Homo sapiens: one gene and its partners. The protein of the gene in region 5 purifies or fractionates together with the protein of the main gene of each other region. This does not show direct contact. Each region holds a gene or a part of one and is shown on either strand. Other genes may lie near its edges. The genes, in order: DRC8, APAF1, WRAP53, TTC38, IQCN, AHR and ANGEL1.

Region 1 (4,199 bases), on a different chromosome or scaffold from region 5:
GAGACCGTCACTGATTTCCCATTGTTCTCAGGCTAGCAACCTTATCACTGTCATGGACAAGAAGGCCCTGCCGTCGGGCCCCTGTCTCTCTTTCTAGCCTCATCTTGAAGCCTTCTCCCTGCTCCTTGTACTCCAGCCTCCTAGCCGCCAATGTGTCAGCAGAGAGTCTTCGCGTATTCAGTTTCCTCTAGGTGACTGTCTCTCCCCTGCTGTCTCTGTCTCATTACCTTCTACTCATACTCTCTAAATCAGCTGGAGTGTTATTTCCTCATGGATGACTTCCCTGGTCTCCTGGTCTAAGAAGTGTTCTTTATTTTTTTATTTTTATTTTATTTTATTATTTTATTTATTTTTTATTTTTTTATTTATCTATATATATATATTTTTTGAGACGGAGTCTCGCTCTGTCACGCAGGCTGGAATGCAGTGGCCTGATCTCGGCTCACTGCAAGCTCTGCCTCCTGGGTTCACGTGATTCTCCTGCCTCAGCCTCCTGAGTAGCTGGGACTACAGGCGCCCACCACCATGCCTGGCTAATTTTTTGTAGTTTTAGTAGAGACAGGGTTTCACCGTGTTAGCCAGGATGGTCTCCATCTGCTGACCTCGTGATCCACCCACCTCGGCCTCCCAAAGTTCTGGGATTACAGGCGTGAGCCATCGCACCCGGCAATTTTTTTATTTTTTATTTTTTTATTGAGATGGAGTCTCGCTCTGTTGCCCATACTGGAGTACAGTGGTGCGATCTCGGCTCACTGCAACCTCCATCTCCCGGGTTCAAGTGGTTCTCCTGCTTCAGCCTCCCGTGTAGCTTGGATTACAGGTGTGCGCCACTACGCCCATATAATTTTTGTATTTTTAGTAGAGACGGGGTTTCACCATGTTGGCCAAGCTGATCTTGAACTCCTGACCTCAAGTAATCTGCCTGCCTTGGCCTCCTCAAGTGCTGGGATTACAGGCGTGAGCCACCACGCCCGGCCGAGTGTTCTTTATTGGCTGTTCTTACAGACCCATGCTCCTTCCCCTCACTGTACTTACATCAGTTCACAGTGTCTTTGGTTGCTGTTTCTTGATTAATGTCTGTCTCCCTGATCAGAGTATCAGCTGTGCTCCAGTTGAATGATGAAGGTAAATCTTAAAAAGATAAAGTAAAGGACCATCTCTGTGAGCAGGGGTCACGCCCAAGTGTGCTCACCATCCAGAGTCTCTAGCACTTGGCACAGTGCTTGGAACAACTAGTTGCTGAATACATTTGTTGAATGACTAAATGGCTATTTACTTATTGAATGTTTAGGTAGAGGAAGAAGAACCCACTGGATACATTCGATTCGAAAAATTTCTTCCGGTGATGACAGAAATACTACTAGAAAGAAAGTAAGTAAGTAAATGCAATTGTTAAGGCAAAGTAATGGTCAGAATTATGAATCCATTCATTTCAGGACGCTTGGCTTTTTCACTTTGTGTGTTATACTCAAGCAGTGTGTCCTAAGGTGGCCTCCCTCTAACCTTTCAAGCTACTTCTGAACTGGCAGTTGGTACCTGCTTAGAAATATCAACCACACTAGTGTTATCCTAAGCAAAGCATAATTAGAGGGTAAATAAGCTATAAAGATCGTAAATCAACATTCTTAGTATCTTCTGTTTTGAATTATCAATGATAAATAAGAATCCTAATATTTTTCTAGCAAAAATATAGCATTAGCTTACCATAGTTGGTTCATCATAGAAGTCTTGTGCCCAGATAAATTGATGTCCAAAAAGCTAATAGATAACCTCAAACATGTCAGTGATTTTGCACTAAATATTTCCTGTGGGGCTGAGGTATTTTCAACTTTCATATCCAGAAATCCAAAAAGATTTCAATGAGGCAAGTATTATCATCCCAGTATGTTAGCAGCTTTTATTTTATTTTATTTTATTTTATTTTATTTTTGAGATGGACTTTCGCTTTTGTCACCCAGGCTGGAATGCAGTGGCACCATCTTGGCTCACTGCAACCTCCACCTCCTGGGTTCAAGCAATTCTCCTGCCTCAGCCTCCCGAGTAGCTGGGATTACAGGCACGTGCATGCCACCATGCCTGGCTAATTTTTGTATTTTTAGTAGAGACAGAGTTTCACTATGTTGGCCAGGCTGGTCTCGAACTCCTGACCTCAGATGATCTGCCCACCTCAGCCTCCCAAAGTGCTGGGATTACAGGCATGAGCCACCATACCCAGCCCTATTTTGTTTTATGTGGTCATTTATTACGGGGATCCCCAACCACCAGGCCAGGTACTGGTGCCAGTCCCTGGCCTGTTAGGACCCCTGGGCCACACAGCAGGAGGTGAGCAGCAAGAGAGTGAGCATTACTGCCCGAACTCCGCCTCCTGTCTGAGAAGCATTGGCATTAGATTATCATAGGAATGCGAACCCTATTGTGAACTGTGCGTGTTAGGGATCTAAGTTGCATGCTCCTTATGAGAATCTAATGCCTGATGATCTGAGGTGGAGCAGTTTCATCCCCAAACCATCCCTCCCCTCCCCTGGTCTGTGGAAGAATTGTCTTCCATGAAACTGGTCCCTGGTGCCAAAAGGGTTGGAGACTGCTGATTTATTATGTAAAGACTGCGGTAAATACCACGGCATTTACTCATTTTATTGCATAATTATAGATACAGACCAATTCCAGAAGATGTCCTTCTTCGAGCTTTTGAGGTATGTAAACTCCAGCTTATATGCATATACATATATATAAATACATTTATTTACATACACACATATATGAAAAATTTATCATGTAGAACTTATTCACCAAATGAAAAATATAATATCTATCTTTTCTTTTCCCCTAGGTTTTAGATTCAGCTAAACGTGGGTTTCTTACTAAGGACGAGCTGATCAAGTATATGACTGAAGAAGGTAAGTGTGATTTATTACTTATCACAATGACTTATGTGAGGAATTAATAATTTGTTAACAGTTATGCGAAAGTTATAGGGGATACTTTAAAATCAGTCATTCTGGTGAAAGTTATTTACTGTTCCTGCTATTTTGGCTTGGGGATGGTTTCTGTTCTGTGGGGGTTAAGAGGACAAAGAGTAGGGAAAGGGGAGATGGGTTGTTGTCTCGTAGAATTTTGTGAAGCACAGTGATTACTTCTATAATTTCAGGCATTGCATTCAGAGCATTTCCAGAATAAAAGATATGCCATCTGGAAAACATGAACTATCGATCACTGTAAATGAAGGCCTCTTCCTAGATTGAAGATTTGAATAAAGAATATAAAAATTCCGCCCCCCCCCCGGCGCCCCGGCTTTTTTTTTTTTGAGACGGATCCGGTCTTGCTCTGTCACCCAGGCTGGAGTGCAGTGGCGCGATCTTAGCTCACTGCAACCTCCGCCTCCTGGGTTCAAGTGATTCTCCTGCCTCAGCCTCCCGAGTAGCTGGGATTACAGGCACAGGCCACTGCGCCCAGCTAATTTTTTGTATTTTTAGTAGAGATGGGTTTCACCATGTTGGCCAGGCTGGTCTCGAACTTCTGACCTCAGGTGATCCACCCATCTTGGCTTCCCACAGTGCTGGTAAAAATTCCCTTTTAAAGAGCTTTTCTGTCAGTGAAGTTACAGATAATGTAGCCTCAATTGAATACTGAGGTCATTTTTAACACTAAAAATGTCCTTTTTTAATGTTAATTGAACCATATATATTTGTTTTGAACATGGCCCATCATACATATATGCATACACACACATAAAACCTGCACACTTATATATATATGCCAACATATTTCCTTTAGGAATTCTCTCTGCTAGGCTGATGTGTAAATTTGTTTACACTGAAGGTCAGTAGCCTGATGGACAGTCTCCTGAAACCATCCTCATATTGGTCCCCTTGCCTTCTCCCATACAAAGCTAGAGCTCTCTGGTTCACAGACTGGGTCCTGAATGACTCAGAGTTGCTAATCACTTGAGGCAGAATGAAAAGCGCAAGTGATTTTGAGTAGGGAAGACTAAGACTGCATCTACACGCACAACTGGTTTGACCATTCCAGCTTCATCCACCTTAAGGCGGAATACAGAGAGTGAGGGTCAGAATGGCAAGGCCGTCACAGCTGCCACCCAAGAACTCTGACGCCATTGTTAAAATTACCTTCGGGATTAATTCTGATGGGGATGTTACGACTTTCAAAGCATCAGCTTCTTCATCCTGAGGATTAGTCTA
Region 2 (4,199 bases), on a different chromosome or scaffold from region 5:
AGTGTGTACTCTTGTAAAATATGTATGTTGTTGGTATGCAGGTATTTTAAATTTGCATAGATGTTATGGTATTATTCTGTTTTTTATCTCCCATGACACAATGTTTTTAAGATTTATCCTTGTTGCTATGTATACATGTTATTTGTTACACCTGATTGCCACCAACCCATTTTACTGCTCATTACCCTAAGTAAATGGATATGTAGATTGTATCCAACTCTCTGCTGCTGCAGCAAAGCTGGGTTGAACTTCTATGTGAGTAAGAATTTCTTGGGTATTTGTAGCTAGGAGCAAAATTAGTAATTATTTATTTATTTTTGTTTTTTTTTAAAGAGACAGAGTGTCACCCTGTTGCCCAGGCTGAGTGCAGTGGCCATATCATAGCTCACTGCAGCCTCAAACTTTTAGGCTCAAGTGATCCTCCCACCTTAGCCTCCTGAGGAGCTGGGTGCACACGCCACCATGCCTGGCTAATTATTTATTTATGAAACAGGGTCTTGCTTTGTCACCCAGGCTGGAGTGCAGTGGCACAATCTTGGCTCCCTGCAACCTCTGCCTTCTGGGCTCAAGTGATCTTCCCACCTCAGCCTCCGGAGTAGCTGGGACCACAGGTGCATGCTGACACACCCAGCTAATTTTTGTATTTTTTGTAGAGTTGGGGTTTTGTCATGTTACCGAGGTTGGTCTCGAACTCCTGAGCTCAAGCAATTCACCCACCTTGGCCTCCCAAAGTGCTGGAATTGCAGGTGTAAGCCACCATGCTTGGTGTGTTTTTAAACATTTTTTTGTAGAGACAGGTTTTTGCTATCTTGTCCAGGCTGGTCTCAAACTCCTGGGCTCAAGTGATGCTCCCGCCTTGGCCTCCCAAAGTGCTGGGGTTACAGATGAAAGTCACCATGTCCAGCCAAAATTACTAAATGATAGGATATACAAATACCAAATTTGATTCCCCTCCAGTCTGTACATTTCCCCCAGATGAGTATGGGGACTCCGATAATTCTACTTGTGCAGTGACGGTTGGTATGATCCAGCTTTGTAATTTTTGCCAGGCAAACTTCTATAAAGTTGTGTCTTTTACTTTGCATTTCTCTGGTAACTCAAGTTTGAACATTTCTTCATAAGCTTGTTGTTAGCCTTTTGGGTTTCTTTTTTTATGGATTTTGTTTATATTATTTGTCTATTTTCCATTGGGGTTTCCAATTTTTTTTTCTTTTTGCTTTTTAGGAGTTTCTTATATATTCTAGACATTAAACTTTGTTGGTTTTAGACTTTTATTTTATTTTATTTTATTTTTTTTGAGACGGAGTTTCGCTCTTGTTGCCCAGGCTGGAGTGCCATGGCGCGATCTTGGCTCACCACAATCTCTGCTTCCCAGGTTCAAGCGATTGTCCTGCCTCAGCCTTCTGAGTAGCTGGGATTACAGGCACCCACCACCACGCCTGGCTAATTTTGTATTTTTAGTAGAGACGGGGTTTCTCCATGTTGGTCAGGCTGGTCTCGAACTCCCGACCTCAGGTGATCCCCCTGCCTCGCCTCCCAAAGTGCTGGTATTACAGGCGTGAGCCACTGTGCTCAGCTGGTTTTAGACTTTTAAATACCTTATTTTAATTTGCCATCTGATTAATTTTTTTCCTGGGTGTTCTCAGTAGACGAGAACTCTGATGTAGTCAAACTAATCAGTTTTTTTTTTTGTCTTCTAACTTGTGTTTCCTGAGTTTTGTTCAAGTAGTCCTATTACAGTCTTATTATTCATATTTAGTTCTTTATTCTCTGGAGTCTGCCTTTGTATGTCCACTAATTCAAGAATAGGTGCTTTCCCAAAGATAAATTTTAATCTCTGGAGTTCACTTCCATTCTCAAATACAGGAACATTGGATTTTTGACATTTAATTGTATTGCAAAACCTTTTCTTTTAAAAGTACAGATAATATAAGAGATCTAAATTTGATTAAAATTGTGGTTCCTATGGAAATGTTTTCTTTGGGTGGTGATTGGCATAAATTAAAGAATATTAAGTTGTTAACTTTTAGCTGGGTGTGGTGGCTCGTGCCTGTAATCCCAGCACTCTGGGAGGCCGAGGTGGACAGATCATTTGAGGTCAGGAGTTTGAGACCAGCCTGGCCAACATGGTGAAACCCCGTCTCTACTAAAAATACAAAAATTTGCTGGGCGTGGTGGCGCATGCCTGTAATCCCAGCTACCCAGGTGGCTGAGGCATAAGAATCGCTTGAACATGGGAGGCAGAGGTTGCAGCGAGCCAAGATTGCACCACTGCTCTCCATCCTGGGTGACAGAGTGAGATGCCGTCTCAAAAAAAAAAAAAAAAAAAAAAAAAAAAAAAAAAAATATATATATATATATATATATATATATATATAGTTTTTAACTATTTATGTCTATACAGTTTTAAGTAACCCAGTTGTCTTTTGAAATTTCAATGCTTTAATTTTTTCTTATTTGTAGGGAAATAGTAAAGAATTGACGTATCTTTAAATACAGTAGTGACATTTTACATTACTGTATTCGTATGTTGGTTTTTAATCATGGATGCTTTCTTCATAGGCTGTGTTCCTATTTGTTTCTGTCCTTTCCAAGATTTCTTTGTGTTATTAGATTATTAATTGCTACCAGGATAAGCCTCCTGTGAAAGTAGTGTGGAGTTTTCCCTGAATAAAGGCAACTTTTCTCTGAATTAGTTTCTCTGAGTGAATTGTAAATACAGCCTCCTCATGCAAAGCTAAATTGCTCCCTCTTGTGCCCATAGTCAAGATGTTTAGATTCTTTCTGAAATGTGGAATTAATGGTTCAGTTTTTAACTAAATGTTATATTGTGATGGTTAGAGATTTACATATCAGATGGTCATTTGGTCTGTTTGCCTTTTTAAAGCTGGTAGTGTTTTCTCTTTTCTTGCATGTATTTAAATGCCCTAAATTTTTAGTTATACATTTAGGGAAAAAGGCCTTTGACCCTAGGTAATAGGTACATAAATTAAAATATGAAAGAATTTACTAGGTAGCCATATCAGGATGCTTTCTTTACCTTTAATCTTGGGATGATTTTTACAAATTTTATTTTATTTTATTTTATTTTGAGACAGAGCCCCATTCTGATGCCCAGGCTGGGGTGCAATGATCTCAGCTCACTGCAACCTCTGCCTCTTGACAGTCCCCCTGCCTCAGCCTCCCAAGTAGCTGGGACTACAGGTGTGTGCCACCACACCCGGCTAATTTTTGTATTTTTAGTAGAGATGGGGTTTCACCATGTTGGCCAGGTTGGTTTCGAACACCTGACCCAAGTGATCCCCTCGCCTCGGCCTCCCAAAGTTCTGGGATTACAGGTGTGAGCTGCTGTGCCTGGCCGATTTTTACAAATTTTAGGTAGTACAAATTTAAAAAAATGGAAACTTAAGGCAACAGATAGTTTATTTGTCTGTTTTTGTTTGTTTAAATATTTTTAAAGTAGTATTTTCTTTTTTTTTTTTTTTTTTTAATTTATTTTTTTATTGATAATTCTTGGGTGTTTCTCACAGAGGGGGATTTGGCAGGGTCATGGGACAATAGTGGAGGGAAGGTCAGCAGATAAACAAGTGAACAAAGGTCTCTGGTTTTCCTAGGCAGAGGACCCTGCGGCCTTCCGCAGTGTTTGTGTCCCTGATTACTTGAGATCAGGGATTGGTGATGACTCTTAACGAGCATGCTGCCTTCAAGCATCTGTTTAACAAAGCACATCTTGCACCGCCCTTAATCCATTTAACCCTGAGTGGACACAGCACATGTTTCAGAGAGCACAGGGTTGGGGGTAAGGTCACAGATCAACAGGATCCCAAGGCAGAAGAATTTTTCTTAGTGCAGAACAAAATGAAAAGTCTCCCATGTCTACTTCTTTCTACACAGACACGGCAACCATCCGATTTCTCAATCTTTTCCCCACCTTTCCCGCCTTTCTATTCCATAAAGCCGCCATTGTCATCCTGGCCCGTTCTCAATGAGCTGTTGGGCACACCTCCCAGACGGGGTGGTGGCCGGGCAGAGGGGCTCCTCACTTCCCAGTAGGGGCGGCCGGGCAGAGGCGCCCCTCACCTCCCGGACGGGGCGGCCGGCCGGGCAGGGGGCTGACCCCCCCACCTCCCTCCCGGACGGGGCGGCTGGCCGGGCAGAGGGGCTCCTCACTTCCCAGTAGGGGCGGCCGTAGTATTTTC
Region 3 (3,462 bases), on a different chromosome or scaffold from region 5:
ATTTATGCTGTAATGAAATACCATTTCACCACCTTCAAATTGAGAAAAATGTAAAAGTCTGGCAATACCAAGAAGATAAAGAACAATAGACACTTTTTTTTTTTTTTGGAGACAGGATCTTGTTCTGTTGCCCAGGCTGGAGTGCAGTGGTGCGAACATGGCACACTGTAGCCTCAAACTCCTGGGGTCAAGCAGTCCTCCTGCCTCACTCTCCCAAACAGGTGGGACTACAAGTATGCCAATATGCCTGACTAATTTTTTAATTTTTTGTAAAACTGGGGTCTTGCTATATTGCCCAGGCTAGAATAGAGACTCTTATACACTGCTGGTGGGAGAGGACATTGGGACAAGTGCTTTGGGAAAGAAATTGACATTATAGTATCTTACAAAGTTTGCAAAGTGCATAGCGTAGAGACCAGTAATTTTACTCTTCAGCAGAAACTGTAGAGAAACCCTTCTACATGTGTACAGAATGTTAAAGCACACTAGCCAAAAAACAGAAAAACATCAGTGATTCTAAATAGAAGAAGGGTAGATCAGTTTGAATATATTCATGAGTAGAGTACTATACACCAGTGAAAATGCATGAATTAGAGCAAAATGTGTTTCCATGGTTAAAGCTTGCTATCACAGAGGGATGTATATGATATAATACCATTACTGTTAAGTCTAGGCCGGGCATGGTGGCTCATGCTTGTAATCCCAGTGCATTGAAAGGCTGAGGTGGCTGGATTGCTTGAGGCCAGGAGTTTTAGACCAGCGTGAGCAACACAGACCCCTGTTTCTACAAAAAAATAATTTTAAAGATTAGCCGGGCAGGCTGGGCGTGGTGTCTCATGCCTGTAATCCCAGCACTTGGGAGACTGAGGTGGGTGGATCACGAGGTCAGGAGTTCAAGACCAGCCTGGCCAAGATGGTGAAACCCCGTCTCTACTAAAAATACAAAAAAATTAGCCGGGCGTGATAGCAGGCGCCTGTAATCGTAGCTACTCAGGAGGCTGAGGCAGAGAATTGCTTGAGTCTGGGAGGCAGAGGTTGCAGTGAGCCAAGATTGTGCCACTGCATTCCAGCCTGGGCGACAGAGCGAGACTCCGTCAAAAATAAATAAATAAATAAATAAATAAATAAATAAGCCAGGTATGGTGGCTTATGCTTATATTCCCAGTTACTAGGGAGGCTGAGGCCAGGGGATTGTTTGCTTGAGCCCAGGAGTTTGAGGTTTCAGTGAGATGATTGCGCCACTGTGCTCCAGCCTAGGCAACAGAGTAAGACCCTGTCTCTAAGAAAAGAAAAAATTAAGTCTAAAGACCTGCAAGACAACGTTAGATACTGTTTTTTTTCCCATATGAATATACTCCTAGGCTGGGCGCAGTGGCTCACACCTGTAATCCCAGCACTTTGGGAGGCTGAGGCAGAAAGATCACTTGAGGCCAAGAGTTCGAGACCAGCCTGGCCAACGTGGCGAAACCCTGTCTATACTAAAAATACAAAAAATTAGCTGAGCATGGAGGTGAACTCCTGCAATCCCAGCTACTCGGGAGGCTGAGACACAAGAATTGCTTGAACCTGGGAGGTGGAGGTTGCAGTGAACTGAGATCGTGCCACTGCACTCAGCCTGGGTGACAGAGTGAGACTCTGCCTTTAAAATTAAAAAAAAAAAATTTATATATATATATATATTTATATATATATATATATTTATATATATATATATATATATATATTTATATATATATATATATATTTATATATATATATATATTCCTAAGGAAATGTATGACAGTGATAAATTCAAGATAGTGTTTACCTCTGAGGGAGAGTTTCTGTTAGGAAAGGGGTTTAAACATATCTTTTTGTTCAGCTGGATGGAGGGGTCACAGGGCTGTTTTTTTAATAAGATACTTTGTATGTTTGAACTGTTTAATTTTTTTTCTTTATTTTTGTAAGGAGGTTTTTTTGTTTCCATTTTTGTATTTTTGAGACAGTGTTTCTGTTGCCCAGGCTGGAGTGCAGTGGCAATGATCTCAGCTCACTGTGGTCTCTATCTCCTGGGCTCAAGCAATTCTCATGCCTCAGCCTCCCTAGTAGCTGGGACTACAGGCATGCACTACCATGCCCAGCTAATTTTTTTTTCTTGTAGAGACAGTGTTTCACCATATTGCCCAGGCTGGTCTTGAACTCCTGGGCTCAAGTGATCTGCCTGCCTCAGCCTCCCTAAGTGCTGGGATTACAGGTGTGAGCCACTGTGCTCAGCCGATAATTTTTTTCTTTTCTTTTTCTTTTTTTTTTGGGGGGCACTGTCTCTCTGTCACCTAGGGTGGAGTGCAGTGGTGCGATCTCAGCTCACTGCAACCTTTGTCTCCTGGGTTCAAGGGATTCTCCTGCCTCAGCCTCCTGAGTATCTGGGATTACAGGTGTCCACCACCACGCCTGGCAAATTTTTGTACTAATATTTTTTTAAAGGATCAAATGGCACCTAGCATGTACTCAGTAAGTATTTGAATAATTGGTTGGTTCTTTGTCTCTGGGTTGAGGTATTATTATTTGTTTCTTCCTCTCTAAGTGTTTATAAAGAAAAAGTATAAGGCCCGGCACGGTGGCTCACACCTGTAATCCCAGCACTTTTGGAGGCTGAGGCGGGTGGATCACCTGAGGTCAGAAGTTTGAGACCAGCCTGGCCAACATCATGGTGAAACCCTGTCTCTATTAAAAAAAAAAACAAAAACAAAATTAGCCAGGCATGGTGGTGCATGCTCTGTCTCAAAATAATAAAAAAAAAAAAGTATGAATCTATATGGCTTTTGGTGGCTAAATTTGACATTAAAGTCTGAGCTCACCCTTGAACATTGAGACAGAGTCTGTGCTCCATATATACACCCCATCTGCCACAACACTGCTAGAGGCACGCGCCTCAGACTCCTTTTCCCTCCGAGTGACTCAGCCATTCCCCCGTCTCTGTATAGGTCCCTGTCCTTCGAATGGTGGAAGGTGATACCATCTATGATTACTGCTGGTATTCTCTGATGTCCTCAGCCCAGCCAGACACCTCCTAGTAAGTAATGTTTGCCTCCCTGCTCGCCGCCCCACCACCCAGTTTCAAGCAGGGCCTCTTGGGAGAGTCAAGGGCTGCCAGGGGTCTTTGGAGGAGGAAGGCTTGGCATGCTTATCAGAGGGGCTGGTCAGTTGGCTTCCTCCCCTTCCTTTTTTTTTTTTTAGATTGAGTCTCCCTCTGTCACCCAGGCTGGAGGGCGGTGATGCAGTCTCAGCTCACTGCAACCTCCGCCTCCCAGGTTGAAGTGATTCTCCTGCCTCAGCCTCCTGAGTAGCTGGGATTACAGGTGTGCACCACCACACCCAGCTAATTGTGTATTTTTCATAGAGATGGGGTTTCACCACGTTGGCCAGGCTGGTCTCGAACTGACCTCAGGTGATCCACCTGCCTTGGCCTCCTGAAGTGCTTGG
Region 4 (4,839 bases), on a different chromosome or scaffold from region 5:
TGCTTCCACATTTTCAGGTATATTTTTGGCAACACCCCACTCTAATGGTACCAATTTACTGTATTAGTCCATATTAGTACTCAGCTCAAGTGCAAAATTTAAGGGTGGAGGGGCACCAAAAACTCAATAATCAAGACAAATTCTCTTTTATTGAGGTAAAGTTCACATAAAAGTAACCATTTATGGGAGGCTGAGGTGGGAGGATTGCTGGAGCCAGGAGTTCAAGGCTTCAGTGACTTATCATCCCTATCCCCTCAGTCCCTGGTCACCACCAATCTTCTTTCTGTCTCTATGTTTGCGTATTCTGGACATGCATGTAAATGCACTAATACAAGTGTTACCTTTTGTGTCTGCCTCTTCCTTCAGTATGAATGAACCTTGAAAACGCTGTAGGAAAGGTGTGTCTTCTTTGGAGAACTGTCACCTCAAATTCTTTGCCCACTTTAAATTTGGGCTGTTTGTCATTTCGCTGTTGAGTTGTAAGAATTCTTTTTTTTTGAGACAGAGTCTGGCTCTGTTGCCCAGGTTGGAGTGCAGTGGCACAATCTTGGCTTACTCCAACCTCCACTTCCCGGGTTCAAGCGATTCTCCTGCCTCAGCCACCCAAGTAGTTGGGATTACAGGCATGCACCACCACGCCTGGCTATTTTTGTACTTTTAATAGAGATAAGGTTTCACCATGTTGGCCAGGCTGGTCTTGAACTCCTGACCTCAGGTGATCCACCTGACTCAGCCTCCCAAAGGGCTGGGATTACAGACATGAGCTGCTGTGCCCGGCCAAGATTTCTTTATGTATTCTGGATTCTAGACTCTTACCCAATATATGATTTACAAATGTTTTTTCCCATTGTGTTAATCTTTTCAGTTTCCTGAGTAGTGTCCTTTGATTCAGAAAAGTTTTTAATTTTGACGAAGTCCAACTTATCTATTTTGTTGTTGTTGCTTGTCCTTTTGGTGTTACATCTAAGAATCCATTGCTAAATCCAAGGCCATGAAGATTTACTTCTGTTTTCTTCTAAGAGTTTTATCTTTACAGCTCTCACATAAAACAAATAATACTTCAGTGCAATATTTCAAAAATCAAAACTAATGCAAAAAGTCCATGATGAACAAAATAGCATTTTAAATAAAGGCCAGATCTGCCCGTGCACTTGGTTCTACGCCCTTGATTCGTGCACCCTGGGGCGGGGGCAAATTAAACTAGGGGAGCCCATTGGACTGGGGCTGGTGTGTGGCTGATGGCAGAGTTCAGGCCGGGCCAGACCGGGCCAGTCCAGAGGGAGAAGCCGCTACTGCAGGAGACAGAGCGATTTTTCCGCTGCAAATCCTTGAGAAGGGAGGATGGAGGCGGCGGGACGACCCAGTGAAGCCGGCCCCGAACGCCAAGTGAGTGTGTGCCGTGCGCGCGCGGGTAGCTGCCGACCGCAACGACATAAACTTGAAAGTGACCGCTGTCCCGGAGCTCCCTGCTCCCAAGGGACCCGTCGCGTTGCAGAGTTGTCCGGTCGGGCCTCTGGGGCGGGCCCGGATCCTGGACCAGGGCCAGTCTGTCCGAAACCCACCAGTGAGCGAGCGGGAGAGCGCGGCCGCCCCGCCCCGCCCCTTTCCGCGACCGCCCCGCCCACTCCCAGGAAGGCCCGGGTGCCCAGAGCTCGCGGTGGACTCCGACCCGGCGCAACATGGCCGCAGCCTCGCCTCTGCGCGACTGCCAGGTACACGGAGGCTGCCCCCAACCAGGTCCCCCTCGGGCCCCGGGTCCTGGGGGTGGCCCGGTGCTGGCGGAATAACGGGAGACATGGCCCGGGCGCGGGGCGTGGGGTGAGCCCTGGGCGCACGGGCGCGTCCGCGGCAACGCCTGGAAGGGACCCGAGGCCCTTCTTGTAGAGTCCCCACCGAGGGAAATAAGGGACGCCTGTCAGGGTACTCGGGAGACCCCAAGACCTCCTAAAAAACGTAGCTCACTGGGCATGGCTGGGGACGCAGGGAAGCCCGCAAAGGTAAGGGGCTCCTTGGAACCGGCCCAGGACTGGGAGCCTGAGCCCATTTTACAGATGAGGAAGGTGGAGGTCAGAGGGGCCAGGAGACGTGTGTGTGTTGAAGTTTGAAGGGCTCCTGGAGAGAAGGCACTGCTATTCCCTTCTTGCCGTCTGTAGGCCTGGAAGGATGCGAGGCTCCCGCTCTCCACCACAAGCAACGAAGCCTGCAAGCTGTTCGATGCCACGCTGACCCAGGTATGCCTGCCGAGAGAGGCCGCGGCCCCTTCTGTGGAGGTCTAGGGGAAGGTTTTTTAATTGGGGAAAGCTGTTTTTTTGTTTTGTTTTGTTTTGTTTTGTTTTGTTTTTGAGGCGGAGTCTCGCTCTGTCGCCCAGGCTGGAGTGCAGTGGCGCTATTTCGGCTCACTGCAAGCTTTGCCTCCCGGGTTCACGCCATTCTCGTCCCTCAGCCTCCCGAGTAGCTGGGACTACAGGCGCCCGCCACTGCCCTCGACTAATTTTTTTTGTATTTTTTAGTAGAGACGGGGTTTCACCGTGTTAGCCAGGATGGTCTCGATCTCCTGACCTCGTGATCCGCCCGCCTCGGCCTCCCAAAGTGCTGGGATTACAGGCGTGAGCCACCGCGCCCGGCCATGGGGAAAGCTTTTTAAATTGCGCCATGACCTTAGCAATAGATGGCAGCACATCTGTGCACTTTGTACTGGAGGACGTGGGAGGGTGGGGACATATCTCTGCCCCCCCCCCACAGCGTCCTAAAAGGGCCTCTGCACTCTCCCTTCTTCCCCAGGACTCTGAGTGGTGGGTGGACAGCGGTGGGTGCAGTGGGGATGTTTTTTGAGGATGCTGGCCTCCCCGGGCCTCCCATTGTGGCCTGCTGAGGGTCTGATGCAGGGCTCGGCTGCTTAGGACGTGGGATCCTGTCCTGGGATGAATCTGTGAGTATACTGCCTTCACCTAGGCTGTGCCAAGACCTTCTGCCACATTACCAGTCATTTCTCTACCAATGAAGGGTCCTATAGTTTTAGAACTAGGAGAAGTCTCAGAAGTAAGATCCAACTAGCTTCCTTGACAAGTGGGGAAACTGAGGCTCAGAGTTGAACCTACTTGACTTGAAGGTTGTCCATGAATTACAGGCAGAACCAGGATGAACCTGGGCCTAACTGCACTGATAGAAACCTAAGCTGACCTTGGCGTGGGTGGTGAGGCCCCTGCATACTGACTTCATCCACATAACAGGAGGACTCAGGTAGCTCTTAGAAGCCTACGGGCTGAACAAGAGAGGACTGATGGAATGCTGTGAGCTGCGCCATGGGTGCCTCTCCTGTTCCCAGCCTGCCCTGCCAAGGGACTCTGCTGTGGGCATCTGAGTTGTTTGTTTATTTTGTGTTTGACCTGGCTCACTTGCCCTTCCTGTATCTCGCCGGCCTCTGTAGAGTACTCGATTTGTTTTTTGTTTGAGACGGAGTCTTGCCCTGTCACCCAGGCTGGAGTGCAATGGCGCAGTCTTGACTCACTGCAAACTCTGCCTCTCGGGTTCAAGCGATTGCCCTGCCTCAGCCTCCGAAGTAGCTGGGATTATAGGCACGCACCATCATACCCAGCTGATTTTTTGTATCTTTAGTAGAGACGGGGTTTCACCATGTTGGTCAGGATGGTCACAAACTCCTGACCTTGTGATTCCCCTGCCTTGGCCTCTCAAAGTGCTGGGATTACAGGCGTGAGCCACTGTGCCCGGCCCCTAGTACTCAGTTTGTTACACACCACATCCCCAATCAGTGGCAGCTCATCCTCCCAGCCTGGGTATATTTTGTCCCGTGTATTGGTGTCTCTGTGCTGTCCTGTGTTAGAACTTGGCTTCTTTAAATCTCTGTGCCAACCCTCCTGTATCTTGTCAAAATGCTTGCGTAGCTTATAGTCTCAGCTATTTGGGAGGCTGAGGCAGGGGGATTGCTTGAGCCTGGGCGGTTGAGACTGAAGTGAGCTGTGATTGTGCCACTGTACTCCATCCTGGGCAACAGAGCAAACCCTGTCTTAAAAAAAAAATACACGTACTAATTCTGTGTAGATGTAGGTTAGACAGCTGAAAGGGCATATTTTAAAATCTAATGTGTGATTATAGGTCTAGGACTTTTTTTAAAACAGGCATTTGAGTAAAGGACCAGGTACAAATACAGCAAATTGTTAAAAATGATGATGCGCTGGGCGCGGTGACTCACGCCTGTAATCCCAGCACTTTGGGAGGCTGAGGCAGGTGGATCATCTGAGGTCAGGAGTTCAACACCAGCCTGGCCAACATGGTGAAACCCTGTCTCTACTAAAAATATAAAAAAATTAGCCGGGCATGGTGGCATGGGCCTGTAATCCCAGCTACTCGGGAGGCTGAGGCAGAGGAATTCTTGAACCAGGGAGGTGGAGGTTGTAGTGAGCTGAGATAGTGCCACTGCCTTCCAGCCTGGGTGACAGGGCAAGACTCCATCTCAAAAAAGAAAAAAAAAAAATTAGCCGGGCGCAGTGGTGCACACCTGTAATCCCAGCTACTAAGGAGGGATTCTCCTACCAAGGCAGGAGAATTGCTTGAAACCTGGAGGCAGAGGTTGCAGTGAGCCAAGATCGTGCCATTGCACTCCAGCCTGGGTGACAGGGCAAGATTCTGTCTCAATTAAAAAAAAAATGATAAAATGAGCTTTGGGTAAGTTTTATCTTTCAGCTTTTGTGTCTTTCTAACTCTCTAAAATAAATGTTTTCTGTGAATATTTTTAAAACGAATGAATAAGAAGCAGGAATATTCCTATCGTGACCAACTTCAGGGCTCCTCTTAGGGCAGAAGAAGCCGATGTGGAGCAGG
Region 5 (4,199 bases):
TCCTTTTATCTTTTTTTTTTTTTTTTGAACTGAGTTTCGCTCAGTCACCCAGGCTGGTGTGCAATGGTATGATCTCAGCTCACTGCAACCTTTGCCTACTGGGTTCAAGAGATTCTCCCGCCTCAGCCTCCTAAGTAGCTGGGATTACAGGCACCTGCCATCATACCTGGCTAATTTTTGTATTTTTAGTAGAGACAGAGTTTCACCATGTTGGCCAGGCTGGTCTTGAACTCCTGACCTCACGTGAGCCACCCACCTCGGCCTCCCAAAGCACTGGGATTACAGGCGTGAGCCACTGCGCCTGGTTTTTTTTTTTTTTTTTTGAGACAGAGTCTCACTCTGTCGCCCAGGCTGGAGTGCAGTTGCGTGATCTCGGCTCACTGCAATCTCCATCTCTCGGGTTCAAGTGATTCTCCTGCTTCAGCCTCTGAAGTAGCTGGGATTACAGGTGCATGCCACTGTGCCTGGCTAAGTTTTGTATTTTTAGTAGAGACGGGGTTTCACCATGTTGGCCAGGCTGTTCTCGAACTCCTGACCTTGTGATCCACCTGCCTTGGCCTCCCGAAGTGCTGGGATGACAGGTGTGAGCCACCATGCCTGGCCTCCCAGGTTACCTTTTATCTTATACTTACTCTTTAATCACAATCTTTTTTTTTTTTTTTTTGAGACAGGGTCTCAGCCAGGCACCGTGGCTTACACTTGTCATCCCAGCTACTTGGGAGACTGAGGCACAAGAATCACTTGAACCTGGGAAGCAGAGGTTGCAGTGAGCCGAGATTGTGACGCTGCACTCCAGCCTGGGCAAAAGGGTGGGACTCTGTTTTAAAAACAAAAAAGAGATAGGGTCTCATTCTGTCGCTCAGGCTCGAGTGCAGTGGTGCCATCGTAGCTTACTGCAGTCTCAACCTCCTGGCCTCAAATGATCCTCCTGTCTCAGCCTCCCGAGTAGCTGGGACTACAGGTGCATGTCACCATGACTGGCTAATTTTTATGTTTTTAGTAGAGACGGGTTTTACCATGTTGCCCAGGCTGGTCTGGAACTCCTGGCCTCAAGTGACCCACCCACCTTGGCCTTCCAAATTGCTGGGGTTACAGACGTGAGCCACTGTGCCCGGCCTATTTTTTTTTTTTTTTTGAGACAGTTTTGCTCTTGTTGCCCCAGATGGAGTACAATGGCACGATCTCAGCTCACTGAAATCTCTGCCTCCCAGGTTCAAGATATTCTCCTGCCTCAGCCTCCTGAGTAGCTGGAATTACAGGCGTCAACCACTATGCCTGGCTAATTTCTTGTATTTTTAGTAGAGACGGGGTTTTACCATGTTGGCCAGGCTGGTCTCGAACTCCTGACCTCAGGTGATCCACCCTCCTCGGCCTCCCAGAGTGCTGGAATTACAGGCGTGAGCCACGCCTGGCCAATTTTTTTTTTTTTTTTTTTTTTTTTTTAAGAGACAGTTCTTGCTTAGTTTCCCAGGCTGGTCTCAAACTTCTGTCCTCAAGTGATCCTCCCATCTTGGCCTCCCAAAGTGCTGGGATTGCAGGCAAGAACCACTGTGCTCAGCCTGGACGCCATTTCTGATGCCTGGATATCATGCCCTTGTATGATTAATTTAAGCCTGTCTCCATTGATAATTTTGGTTTCTTCCAGTTTTTCCTCTGCTAAACAATACAGTGTTAAACATCCTTGAACATACTTCTGTATTCATTTGTAGCAGAACCTCTACCAATCACTGTTTTGGTTATTTCCAGTTGTTTTGTTTGATTTCTAGCTACAAAATAACACTGGAATAAATTTCCTCATCTTTGCACATTTTTTTTTTTTTTTAGAATTTAGCTTTTTTAGAATTTAGAAATTTTAGAATTTAGCATTTTTGCTTTTAACATTTCTTTTTGTGTTGGTCTTGAGCCAGCCCAGGGCAGTGTTGCTGCATATTGCATGGATGAAAGGCTGAAGGCTGCCTCCTCTTGCAGGCTGGCTTCTGAGATTGCACCTTCTTCTCCTGCTACTCCTCCAAATCTATGACCCTTCAAGGTAAGAAGATGGTCTATGGGCAAGGGGTCTGGCTAGTCCAACCTGAAGAGAGGGGCTTCTGCCAAACAAGTGTGCTGTGCTCCAGGCTATGCATCAGGGTGGCTTGACAGTGTCCCAGCTCTCTCTGCATCCTAGTTACTTCTGAAAGCCACAGTCACCACTTTTTCTTCCTTCTTTCCATCCTTCCATATGCCATTTACCTACCCATCCCCTAATCCACCCACCCACCCATCCACCCATCAGTCTACCTCCTGTTGGGTTATCTCTTCACCAGTCTTTCCAGCTCTCTTTAATTTCCCTCCCTCCCTTGCTTCCTTCCTTCTTTCCTTTTATTTGACACGGAGTTTCACTTCTGTTGCCCAGGCTGGAGTGTGATGGCGTGATCTTGGCTCACTGCAACCTCCTCCTCCCGGGTTCAAGCAATGCTCCTGCCTCAGCCTCCCGACTAGCTGGGACTACAGGCTCATGCCACCATACCTGGCTCTTTTTTTTTTTTTTTTTTTTGAGACAGAGTCTTGCTCTGTCACCCAGGCTGGAGTGAGGTGGCGCGATCTCGGCTTACTGCAACCTCTGCCTACCGGGTTCAAACAATTCTCCTGCCTCAGCCTCCTGAGTAGCTGGGATTACAGGCACGAGCCACCATGCCGAGCTAATTTTTGTATTTTCAGTAGAGATGGGGTTTCACCACGTTAGCCAGGCTGGTCTCAAACTCCTGACCTTGTGATCCGCTCACCTCGGCCTCCCAAAGTGCTGGGATTACAGGCATGAGCCACTGTGCCTGGCCTACTTTTCTGTATTTTTAGTAGAGACGGGTTTCACCATGTTGGCCCGGCTGGCCTCGAACTCCTGACCCCAAGCAATCTGCCCACCTTGGCCTCCCAAAGTGCTGGAATGACAGACATGAGCCACCGTGCCGGGCCAATTTGCCTTTAACACTTTATTCATCAGCTTTATTTACCTATTCATCCAAACCTTCATCTGTCTTTCCAACCCATCTACCATTCACTCATCGACTGATTCATCCATTCAGTATCTAGTCCTGTATCTATCTGTCCATCCAACTTCCAATCCACTCACCATTTATCAGTCAAGATGCCCCCCCCACCCAATACCTACCCATTCACAGCTTGGAACCAAGCTCTATGACTGAGATGGGGACACAGAAATGACTCTGTCTTCTAGGATTCACAATCAATGGGGAGAGGCAAATAATCTCCCCCACCACACTTCTCTCTCTCTCTTTTTCAAACACACACACACACACACACACACACACACACACACACACACAGAGGCAAACAGGAAATTTCCAAAACATTGTGATCAGTGCTAAACCCAGGGTACATCCAAGATAAAGTTTGAAAAGCAGGCCGGGCGCGGTGGCTCACACCTGTAATCCCAGCACTTTGGGAGGCTGAGTCAGGTGGATCACCCGAGGTCGGGAGTTCGAGACCAGCCTGGCCAACATGGTGAAACCCCGTCTTTACTAAAAATACAGAAAAGTAGCCAGCCAGGCATGGTGGCGTGCACCTGTAATCCCAGCTACTCGGGAGGCTGAGGCAGGAGAATCGCTTGAACCCAGGAGGCGGAGGTTGTGGTGAGCCAAGATCACAGCATTGCACTCCAGCCTGGGCAACAAGAGCAAAACTCTGTCTCAAAAAAAAAAAAAAAAAGAAAAGAAAAAAGAAAAGCAGGTAAGTGGTCGGGCATTCAGGTGTCATACACTGTGTGCCAAGATGAAGTGGCCGTAGGGTGATGAGAGGTGGATATAAGGATGGCAAAGACCACTTGGGAGAGGGAGGGATGGAAAAAGGGAGGCGGAAGATCGCAACGTGCCAGGAACAAGATCTGGGCCTGGGGGGCCAGTGTCCACCCCAGCCAGGAGACCTCTTGTTTGCAGGACCTGCTACACCCTGACCACCCCCTGCCGCCCCCACAGGCAGAGCTGACCTGTCCGGTAATCAAGGCAATGCAGCCGGCCGCCTAGCTACAGTTCACGAGCCAGTTGTCACCCAGTGGGCGGTGCATCCTCCAGCCCCCGCTCACCCCAGTCTCCTGGACAAAATGGAGAAAGCGCCTCCACAGCCCCAGCACGAGGGCCTCAAGTCCAAGGAGCATCTTCCGCAACAGCCTGCCGAAGGCAAGACGGCGTCCCGCCGCGTCCCACGCC
Region 6 (4,199 bases), on a different chromosome or scaffold from region 5:
TTTAGATACACAAATACTTACCATCATGTTACAATTGCTTTAAGTATTCAGTACGATAGCATGCTGTACAGGTTTGTAGCCTAGGAACAAAAGGCTATACTGTATAGCTTAGATGCGTAGTAAGCTATACCATCTAGGTTTGTGAACCTACCCTCTGATGTTCACAGGATAATGAAATTGCCTAAGGACACATTTCACAGAACATGCCCCTTTTGTTAAATGACATGTGAGTGTATGTCTGAGGTGGAATATCTGTGTGCAGGAGGGCCTTTTCCTCCTTGTGCTGCTATTATTTTGATGTCAGAACCATCCCTTGGACTGGTTGATATTGTTTTAAGCAATTAAATATATCATGTTCATGTTTAAGTGCCTTTGTTTTCCCTGTCTTCTAAATTTCTTCCATATCTTTACTCAGTAGGGCTCTGCATTCTTTATATGTTTTCATGATGATTCATTTTAGTGTCTTAATAAAATTATATTTTGCCTCTATAGAAAAGATTATGAACTATGCAGTATGCTATGAGCTGTGATATAGTTCATGTATGCTTGAAAATGAATGTTTACTTTAGGACTTTATCACCATTCAGGATATATTGATTGCCTGGTGTGCAAGGAGCTGTGTGAGGTGAAAATGATAGGGTAATGGCAAGCTTGGAAAATGATATAGGTTTTCATGTTATGACCATTAGGAACAAGGAGTGGTTCACTTATCCCTTTAGAATATTTTTCATATTACTCTTTGAGATAGATTTAATGGGCGTCCCATGGAGAGAGGAGTGAAGGAAACTAACAGTTCTCAGCTTCAGGAATATTTATGGAATTATCAAGAACCCTAGAGGCAGCCATAATGGAGCCTTTTAAAAAGGCACTATTTTATATTGTTAATTTTAATGAACTTTTTTGTTGTTGTTGCTTTTTTAAGGCAATGAATTTCCAAGGGAAGTTAAAGTATCTTCATGGACAGAAAAAGAAAGGGAAAGATGGATCAATACTTCCACCTCAGTTGGCTTTGTTTGCGATAGCTACTCCACTTCAGCCACCATCCATACTTGAAATCCGGACCAAAAATTTTATCTTTAGAACCAAACACAAACTAGACTTCACACCTATTGGTTGTGATGCCAAGTAAGTGAGACTTTTTCACTTTTATTTTATTGGATGTACATTATGTTTCAGTAAGTCTCTCTTAGCATGTAAAACATACAGTGTATGTAATATTGTTTATTATTAGATTGGCTATTATCGTACATTCTTCCAGTGTAGCCTTTTACAGTAAAATAATTTAATCAGGCTCACAAATCATCTTTTTAATTTTTGCAATACTTGTCTCAAATGATGATGTTCTTATATATTAGTAAGGTTTATTCTTCTGATGACATTTATGTTGGTTTGTTTTACATTTTTAAATGGCACAAATGTTATTTGATTTCTAGCCCCAGAAGTTTTAGTAACTTTCAGAAAATTGTGAGCAGGAGTCTGATATTAAACATTTATATCATATCAAACATATCAGTGCTTTTCTCCTTTCTAATGTGGGAATGCAGAGAGGTAATTAGAAAAACCTTCTTCCCTAAAAATAGATTATAAAAACATTCCAGATTTTTATTAAAGATGTTCTGTTACCCATACATCTGCTCTATTAGATTCATTTTTAGCATACTAATTTCCATGGATTTATTCAGGAAAAGAAAATAGGCTGAAACTGAAATTTGCAATCATAAGCAAAGAAGATCAGTTTACATGGATGTGTTTAATTTCACATCTACTTATGTGAAATTCTAAATGTGAACTAAAACATATTGCAGAAACTAGCGTAAAACCAATGAATTTATCTTGGTTATTTCATTTATGTTAAATCTTAATCCATTCTTATTTTACCTTTTTTTATTTTAAACAGAGGAAGAATTGTTTTAGGATATACTGAAGCAGAGCTGTGCACGAGAGGCTCAGGTTATCAGTTTATTCATGCAGCTGATATGCTTTATTGTGCCGAGTCCCATATCCGAAGTAAGTTGTAGTTCCTTATGAACATGTCAGAAGAAAACGGCATATACTGTTGTACATGTTTCAAATTCTTACGTAATGTAAAGTGTTTAAGTAAAGTATATGGATAAACTTCTACTTAGTAACATATCATTATGATTAACCAGGGTTACACTCTTTGTTCATTAACTTGTCTACACCTGCCATGTAGAAATATTGTTGTTTAGTTATTAAAAAATGACCATTTTGGCCCATGAAGTTTTGCTTGGGAATTTTTTAATTACATCGTTATCAATTCATAAATCTATGTTAATATTGTAACAATAATAGTGTTAATAATTCTAGTTTAAAATTATAAAGTATTAGGCTGTAGGAAAATATTCCCTATTTAAAATGAAAATAATTTTTTCCCCAACTTATGTTCTCTCTATACTTTCCTGTGTTACTAGAATTGTTTGGTACATAATCTTCCCTTTAACATTTAAAATAATAAATTTAAAACAACTCTGAAAAACTATTTCCATGCCTTTTATTATTTTTTGTTTAAAATTTATTGTCTTTGGGGATAAAGGAAATACATCCAGAACTATGTCACAAGAGCTTTGTTTTAGGAATAATCTTTACTATATTGATTTGGGGGTTTGATAATTTAATTTTTTAATTTTATTTTAGTGATTAAGACTGGAGAAAGTGGCATGATAGTTTTCCGGCTTCTTACAAAAAACAACCGATGGACTTGGGTCCAGTCTAATGCACGCCTGCTTTATAAAAATGGAAGACCAGATTATATCATTGTAACTCAGAGACCACTAACGTAAGCACAAATAATGTTTCCTGTTTTAACAGTTTTGTTTTCATAAGTCCTCTTATGTGAAAGCATAAAAATAATTCAAGCAGACTTTAGTCTGTAAATAAAAATTGAAAAGTTTAATTCATCTAGAAAGAAGAGCACAGGTGAGAGACATTGAGAAGATAGAATTGACGAACTTGATTGAGAGCTACATGTGCAGAGCTATAGAAAGAATAATAAAACTCTAGGGTTTTATCTTGGGCATATGAAAGACACATGAAAAGCTAGTGTCATTGGTAAAAAAGAAGAAAAATATAACAATGCTTTATTTAGAATATATTCTCTAAACCCAGCAGTGATTTTAAGAGTTTCTTACACATGCTGCAGATGAGTCCTTTATCAAATATTTGTATTGCAAATGTTTCCTCCCACTCTGGAGAATTGATTTTTGTCTGTAGCTTGAGGTAAGGATTGATTCCCCCCAGCCATTATACGTATACCCAATTGACCAGTAACATTGAAAAGATGATTTACCGAGAAGGTCATTGTTTCCCGGCTGCGCTGTATTTTGATCAGGGGATTTTGTCTGTGGTTCTCTGTCTGGATTGTGTTGTTCTATTAATAGCTCCATTAGTGCAGTTGTCTATTTTGTCTAGCATTACACTGTCTTAGTTATTCTATCTTTATTATATATTTCTATGTCAGAGTGTGTCATTTTGTTTGTTTTGCCTTTTTTGTTCTCCTTCAAGATTGCCTTGGTTCTTCTTTGCCCTCTATAATTCCATATACATTTTAGAAAGCAGTTGTCTGAAAATCTGTTGAGATTTTGAGTGCAATTACCTTGAAACTGTAGATCATTTGGGGAGAATTAACATCTTTTTAATACTGAATCTTTGAGCCCATGAACATGATGAATGTATGTATGTGTATAAGTACCCATGGAAGTACATGAGTATGTGTGTACCATATGTATATGAGTGCATGGGTATGTGTGTACCTCTACAAATTTGTCACTTCTCCCTTGATCAATGTTTCTAGAAGGCACTTTTTTTAATTAGATTTTATTAGTCTTTATTAGGATCCAACTTTTGGTTTATTGATTTTTTTCTATTTTATACATTTGTTTTCAATTTTAATTATGTCTGCTCATTATTATTTTCTTCCTTCTACTTTCTTTGGGTATAATTTATCATTTTTTGCAACTTTTAAAAAATATATACTTAAACATATATATCAGTTTCCCTTTAAGTACAGCATTACAACCCTCATCTTTTGCTATCTTATTTTTATTATTTAATTGAAAATACTGGCTAATTTGTTTTTATTTTTATTCATGAATTATTTAGAAATACAGTGTTACTGTACTTTTTGGTGTTTGGGGATTTTTCTAGTTGCCTTTTTATGATTGACTTTTAGCTTAATTCCA
Region 7 (4,199 bases), on a different chromosome or scaffold from region 5:
AGTGTTTTTAACTCATGAAAGGGTGTTGGAGTGTGTCAAATGTTTTTCTTCTGTCTGTTTAGATAATCATGTGGCTTTTTTTTAAACTTAAGTATTCTATTGCGACATATCACATTATATGATTTTTCAGATGTTAAACCATGCTTACATTCCTAGGATAAATCTTATTTGGTCATAGTATATAATTTTATATTTTGCTGGATTTGGTTTGCTGATATTTTATTGAGGAATTTTGCATCTGTATTCATAAGGGATATTGGTCTATAGTTTTTGTTGTGACATTTTATCTAGTTTTGATGTCAGAGTAATGCCTCATAGAATGAGTTGAGAAGTGTCTCCTCTTTTTTTTGGAAGTGTTTGTGAAGGATTTGTATGAATTCCTCTTGAAATGTTTGCTGGAATTCACCAGTGAAGCCATTGAGCCTGGTGTTTTCTTTGTGGGATGTTTTAAAATTACAGATTCAATCTCTTTATTTATTATAGGCCTATTCAGATTTTCAGTTTTTTCTTGAGTTATTGTGCATAGTTTGTGTCTTTCTAGGAATTTTTCAATTTTATATAAGTTATCCAATTTGTTGGTATCCAGTTATTTATAGCATTCACTTATAGTTATTTTTTATTTCTAAATGGTTGGTGGTGATGGCCCCTCTTTCATTTCTGATTTTAGTAATTTGAGTATTCTGTTTTCTTGGTCTAGCTAAGGGCTTGTCACTGTTGTTGCTGATCCTTATTATCCTGTTAATGTTGGTAGGATCTGTACTAATGTCCCTTCTTTCTTTCCTGATATTGGTAATTTGTATCTTCCTTTTTTAACATTCGTGTGTATGATATGTATGTGTGTGTGTGCTTATAGATGTATACATATATGTAATATGTATGTATATATACATGTATGCATACATGCATAGACACACACAATGGATGGTATGTAATAGAAAGTCTTTGAAGGAATATACCAGGAATTTGGTAACATTGGTGGCTTCTGGAGAGGGGAATTGAGTGGCAGAGGAGGACAAGTGAGAGGGAAACTTCACTGATACTTTTTGCTACATTTTGATTTTGTACCATGTGACTATATGACTTATTTTTTTTTAATCAAATTAAAGAAAAACAAAGGTGAGGAGCCACAGAAGACAATGTCTGTGTTAGATGCCCTACATCTGCTTTCTGAGGTTCTTGACTTTGGTTTATGGTCATCTTCTCCTCCTCACTGTTTCTCCCTTTCTCCTTCTGGATCCTTCTGAAGCAATCCAGTCAAGGATCTGAGAGGGATTTTAGGGTGAAAGGTTCTGATCCTGCTTCACTGTCTGTGGATGAGAAAATGTTTTTCTCTCTGGTCCTCTGCAGAGCGACCTGCGGGTTGGGCTGAGTCTGTCCTTGAGGAAGATGCATCGGAGCTTGAGCCTGCCTTCTCCAGGTAACCTTCTCCAGTTCTCTTCTGTTTTCAATCCAGCCCTTGCCTAGGTGTAAGAGAGAGATTCCCATTGGTTGTCCTGAGGTTGACTTGGGGGAGCACTTTTTGATAAGCTCTTTTTCCCCTAATATCTGCTAAACTTATAGAGGGTTATGTAGGTATGCAGAAGCCAGAGGTGACCCACCCATGTTACTGCAGGTGAAAAGGCTATGTACTCTTTCCTCAGAGGGTAAAGCCTCACAGAAGAGGCCTGGGCCCCAGACAGGGGTACATTGGGGATACTTTACCAGGTAACAAGCAGATAGTGGGGGATTAGGAGTGTTAGGGAGTCTCAGTACAAATGTGTGTTTCTAGGCTAATTTTAGCTAAGACTGCCAGCCCCTTCTTAGCATGGGGAGGAATTGGCTGAGATTGAGTCATCTGAGATCATCCTTTTAAAAAATCTTCATAAAACCCATAGAAAAAGTGATCTAGGGAAAATTTAGTAATTTTTGTTAACTAATGTTTCCCCCTTCATCCCTGTAGGACTGTAGGTACCATCCAGCACTGCCTCCACCTGACGTCAGTATATACCCACTTCCTGCCCCAGCGTGGCCGCCCAGAGGTCACTACAATGCCATTGGGTCTTGGAATGACAGTAGATTACATCTTCTTCTCAGCTGAGTCCTGTGAGAATGGGAACAGAACTGGTAAGCCTGATGGATCCTGGGTTCCTCCACCCCCAGGTCCCTGGGAACAGCTAATGGTAGGTCAGGCATTTGGTAGCATGTCTTCAGCTGCTGGGATTTAACCAGCAAAGGAGCAGATTTCATACCTCCCTTGCACTGGTCATCCTTATCATTCTCCCCATAGGCCACTTGCCTGCCTTGTCTCTTTTTACCCTTGCAGCATTAAAGAGAGGAGGGTAGGACAGTCACTCCCAATCCCCATTTTAGAGGTAAAAATAGAGATCTAGGAATTGGTTGAGTTTGTTTAATGACAGCCACTGAATGAGGGACTTGGTTAGGTAAGAGACCTTATTTTCTGTCTCCTCTCCCCATACCAGTGGGCACAGTATAGCAATCTCCCAGCCCCATGCCTGTATTGTGTAAAGAATGTTTCTTTTTGGCCAGGCATGTGTATTACTGTTATGGCCAGGCACGTGTATTACTGGTTCACACCGGTAATCCCAGCACTCTGGGAGGCCGAGGTGGGTAGATCACTTGAGGTTAGGAGTGAGACCAGCCTGGCCACATGATGAAACCCCGTCTCTACTAAAAATACAAAAAATTAGCCGGGTGTGGTGACGGTGTCTGTAATCCCAGCTGCTTGGGAGGCTGAGGCAGGAGAATCGCTTGAACTCGGGAGGCAGAGGTTACAGTGAGCCGAGATCGTGCCACTGCACTCCAGCCTGGGCAACAAGCGTAAAACTCCGTCTTAAAAAAAAAAAAAAAAAAAATTAGCCAGGCATGGTGGCGGGTACCTATAATCCCAGCTACTCAGGAGGCTGAGGCAGGAGAATCGCTTGAACCCGGGGGTCAGAGGTTGCAGTGAGCTGAGATTGCGCCACTGCACTCCAGCCTGGACAACGAAGTAAGACTCCATCTAAAAAAAAAAAAAAAAAAATCAGATTTTATATAGAAAAGCTGGATCTCTAGCTTCTCTTGGAAAATCAAAAGATCTTATAATGGTGGGCTCTCCAGCTTGCCCCAGTTCCCCGGAACTCACCTGTCTTTATTCGTTGATGATATTATGGAGTATCTCTGAGAAAATGGGGCCTCCTCAGCCAGATGCTGCAAGAGGAGGTGAGGGGCAGTGGGCAGCCAAGGGGATGCAGCCTGCAGAAGGCGTTCCCAAAGGACTCTGCCACTGCCTGCCCATGCAGTGTGGCTGCGGCTGCTTTTACCCATTGGCTTCTGCTTTGTGCCCCAGATCACAGGCTGTATCGAGATGGAACTCTCAAGCTCCTGGGTCGTCTCTCCCTTCTCTCTGAAGAGATACTCTGGGCTGCCAATGGCTTACCCAACCCCTTCTGCTCTTCAGACCACCTCTGCCTGCTAGCCAGCTTCGGGATGGAAGTCACCGCCCCATGACAGGGCTCCCAGGGGAAGAGAGCTTCTCTTCCAGAAGAGCTCACTGGATCAGAGACTGTGGAAAAATCCCATGCATCTAGAAACTTAGATCCAAGAAACTTACATCCCCTCCCTTCCCCCTCCTCGTTCCCTTTTTCCCACGGTTAGACTTTCTCCAGGCCTGGCTGCGTTCTCTGCCTGTGGTCCTTGCCCCACCCCAGCCTCTTCCTAATCCTGTGCCACACACTCAGTGGCCCTGGGAGAGGCAGAAGGGGGGCTCCCCCTTCCTTCCATGTATCCAGCGCTCCCCCTTGATTTTTAATTACCAGGGTTATGGGAGTTCTTGATTTCATTGGTTATTTGCTTTCAGGCCGTTTCTTGATGTACCTTCTGACCTGACCTTTTCCCTGCCTTCAGGACTTCTGGGCCCAGCCCTCTTGCCAGGCATGCATATGTGAGATATGCATATCATGTATGTGTCCTCTTGGGGTGAGACTTCTGCACAGCCATGCCTGCCTCTGACCAGTCCACTTTTCATGTTGGGGCTGTAGGCCTGGGGCAGGTTCAGAGTCTACCCAAGTACCTATGTATGAGCAGGCAGCAGCAGGGCATGGCCCCATCTCTCCTTTTAGCCTCTGTGTTTCATTAGGCATTCATCCTGCCAACCAGGGCAGGCCCGGCGTCTGGGCTCTGGGAACAAATGGGGCCCACATCCTGGAGTGGCAAATTTTGGG

Evidence for each region.
Region 1: the proteins of IQCN (region 5) and DRC8 purify together in Homo sapiens (affinity purification with mass spectrometry; 2 studies listed by BioGRID and IntAct, with this or other methods). This does not show direct contact.
Region 2: the proteins of IQCN (region 5) and APAF1 purify together in Homo sapiens (affinity purification with mass spectrometry; 2 studies listed by BioGRID and IntAct, with this or other methods). This does not show direct contact.
Region 3: the proteins of IQCN (region 5) and WRAP53 purify together in Homo sapiens (affinity purification with mass spectrometry; 2 studies listed by BioGRID and IntAct, with this or other methods). This does not show direct contact.
Region 4: the proteins of IQCN (region 5) and TTC38 purify together in Homo sapiens (affinity purification with mass spectrometry; 2 studies listed by BioGRID and IntAct, with this or other methods). This does not show direct contact.
Region 6: the proteins of IQCN (region 5) and AHR purify together in Homo sapiens (affinity purification with mass spectrometry; 2 studies listed by BioGRID and IntAct, with this or other methods). This does not show direct contact.
Region 7: the proteins of IQCN (region 5) and ANGEL1 purify together in Homo sapiens (affinity purification with mass spectrometry; 2 studies listed by BioGRID and IntAct, with this or other methods). This does not show direct contact.

What each region holds. Positions count from the first base shown.
Region 1 is NC_000001.11:245,080,792-245,084,990, forward strand, and holds part of DRC8 (dynein regulatory complex protein 8), read left to right. Parts: intron 1-1,291; coding exon 1,292-1,371; exon of another isoform or gene 1,372-1,374; intron 1,375-2,650; coding exon 2,651-2,693; intron 2,694-2,830; coding exon 2,831-2,897; intron 2,898-3,148; coding exon of another isoform or gene 3,149-3,177; exon of another isoform or gene 3,178-4,199. UniProt on the Homo sapiens protein: Component of the nexin-dynein regulatory complex (N-DRC), a key regulator of ciliary/flagellar motility which maintains the alignment and integrity of the distal axoneme and regulates microtubule sliding in motile axonemes.
Region 2 is NC_000012.12:98,651,347-98,655,545, forward strand, and holds part of APAF1 (apoptotic protease-activating factor 1), read left to right. Parts: intron 1-4,199. UniProt on the Homo sapiens protein: Oligomeric Apaf-1 mediates the cytochrome c-dependent autocatalytic activation of pro-caspase-9 (Apaf-3), leading to the activation of caspase-3 and apoptosis. This activation requires ATP. Isoform 6 is less effective in inducing apoptosis.
Region 3 is NC_000017.11:7,697,778-7,701,239, forward strand, and holds part of WRAP53 (telomerase Cajal body protein 1), read left to right. Parts: intron 1-2,963; coding exon 2,964-3,052; intron 3,053-3,462. UniProt on the Homo sapiens protein: RNA chaperone that plays a key role in telomere maintenance and RNA localization to Cajal bodies. Specifically recognizes and binds the Cajal body box (CAB box) present in both small Cajal body RNAs (scaRNAs) and telomerase RNA template component (TERC).
Region 4 is NC_000022.11:46,266,361-46,271,199, forward strand, and holds the start of TTC38 (tetratricopeptide repeat protein 38), read left to right. Parts: upstream 1-1,647; 5' UTR 1,648-1,679; coding exon 1,680-1,712; intron 1,713-2,153; coding exon 2,154-2,231; intron 2,232-2,781; exon of another isoform or gene 2,782-2,929; intron 2,930-4,839.
Region 5 is NC_000019.10:18,267,296-18,271,494, reverse strand, and holds part of IQCN (IQ domain-containing protein N), read left to right. Parts: intron 1-1,903; exon of another isoform or gene 1,904-1,907; 5' UTR 1,908-2,016; coding exon 2,017-2,029; intron 2,030-3,929; exon of another isoform or gene 3,930-3,968; coding exon 3,969-4,199. UniProt on the Homo sapiens protein: Essential for spermiogenesis and fertilization. May be required for manchette assembly in elongating spermatids.
Region 6 is NC_000007.14:17,332,990-17,337,188, forward strand, and holds part of AHR (aryl hydrocarbon receptor), read left to right. Parts: intron 1-922; coding exon 923-1,125; intron 1,126-1,897; coding exon 1,898-2,007; intron 2,008-2,655; coding exon 2,656-2,797; intron 2,798-4,199. UniProt on the Homo sapiens protein: Ligand-activated transcription factor that enables cells to adapt to changing conditions by sensing compounds from the environment, diet, microbiome and cellular metabolism, and which plays important roles in development, immunity and cancer.
Region 7 is NC_000014.9:76,788,515-76,792,713, reverse strand, and holds part of ANGEL1 (protein angel homolog 1), read left to right. Parts: intron 1-1,347; coding exon 1,348-1,417; intron 1,418-1,939; coding exon 1,940-2,103; intron 2,104-3,325; coding exon 3,326-3,486; 3' UTR 3,487-4,199.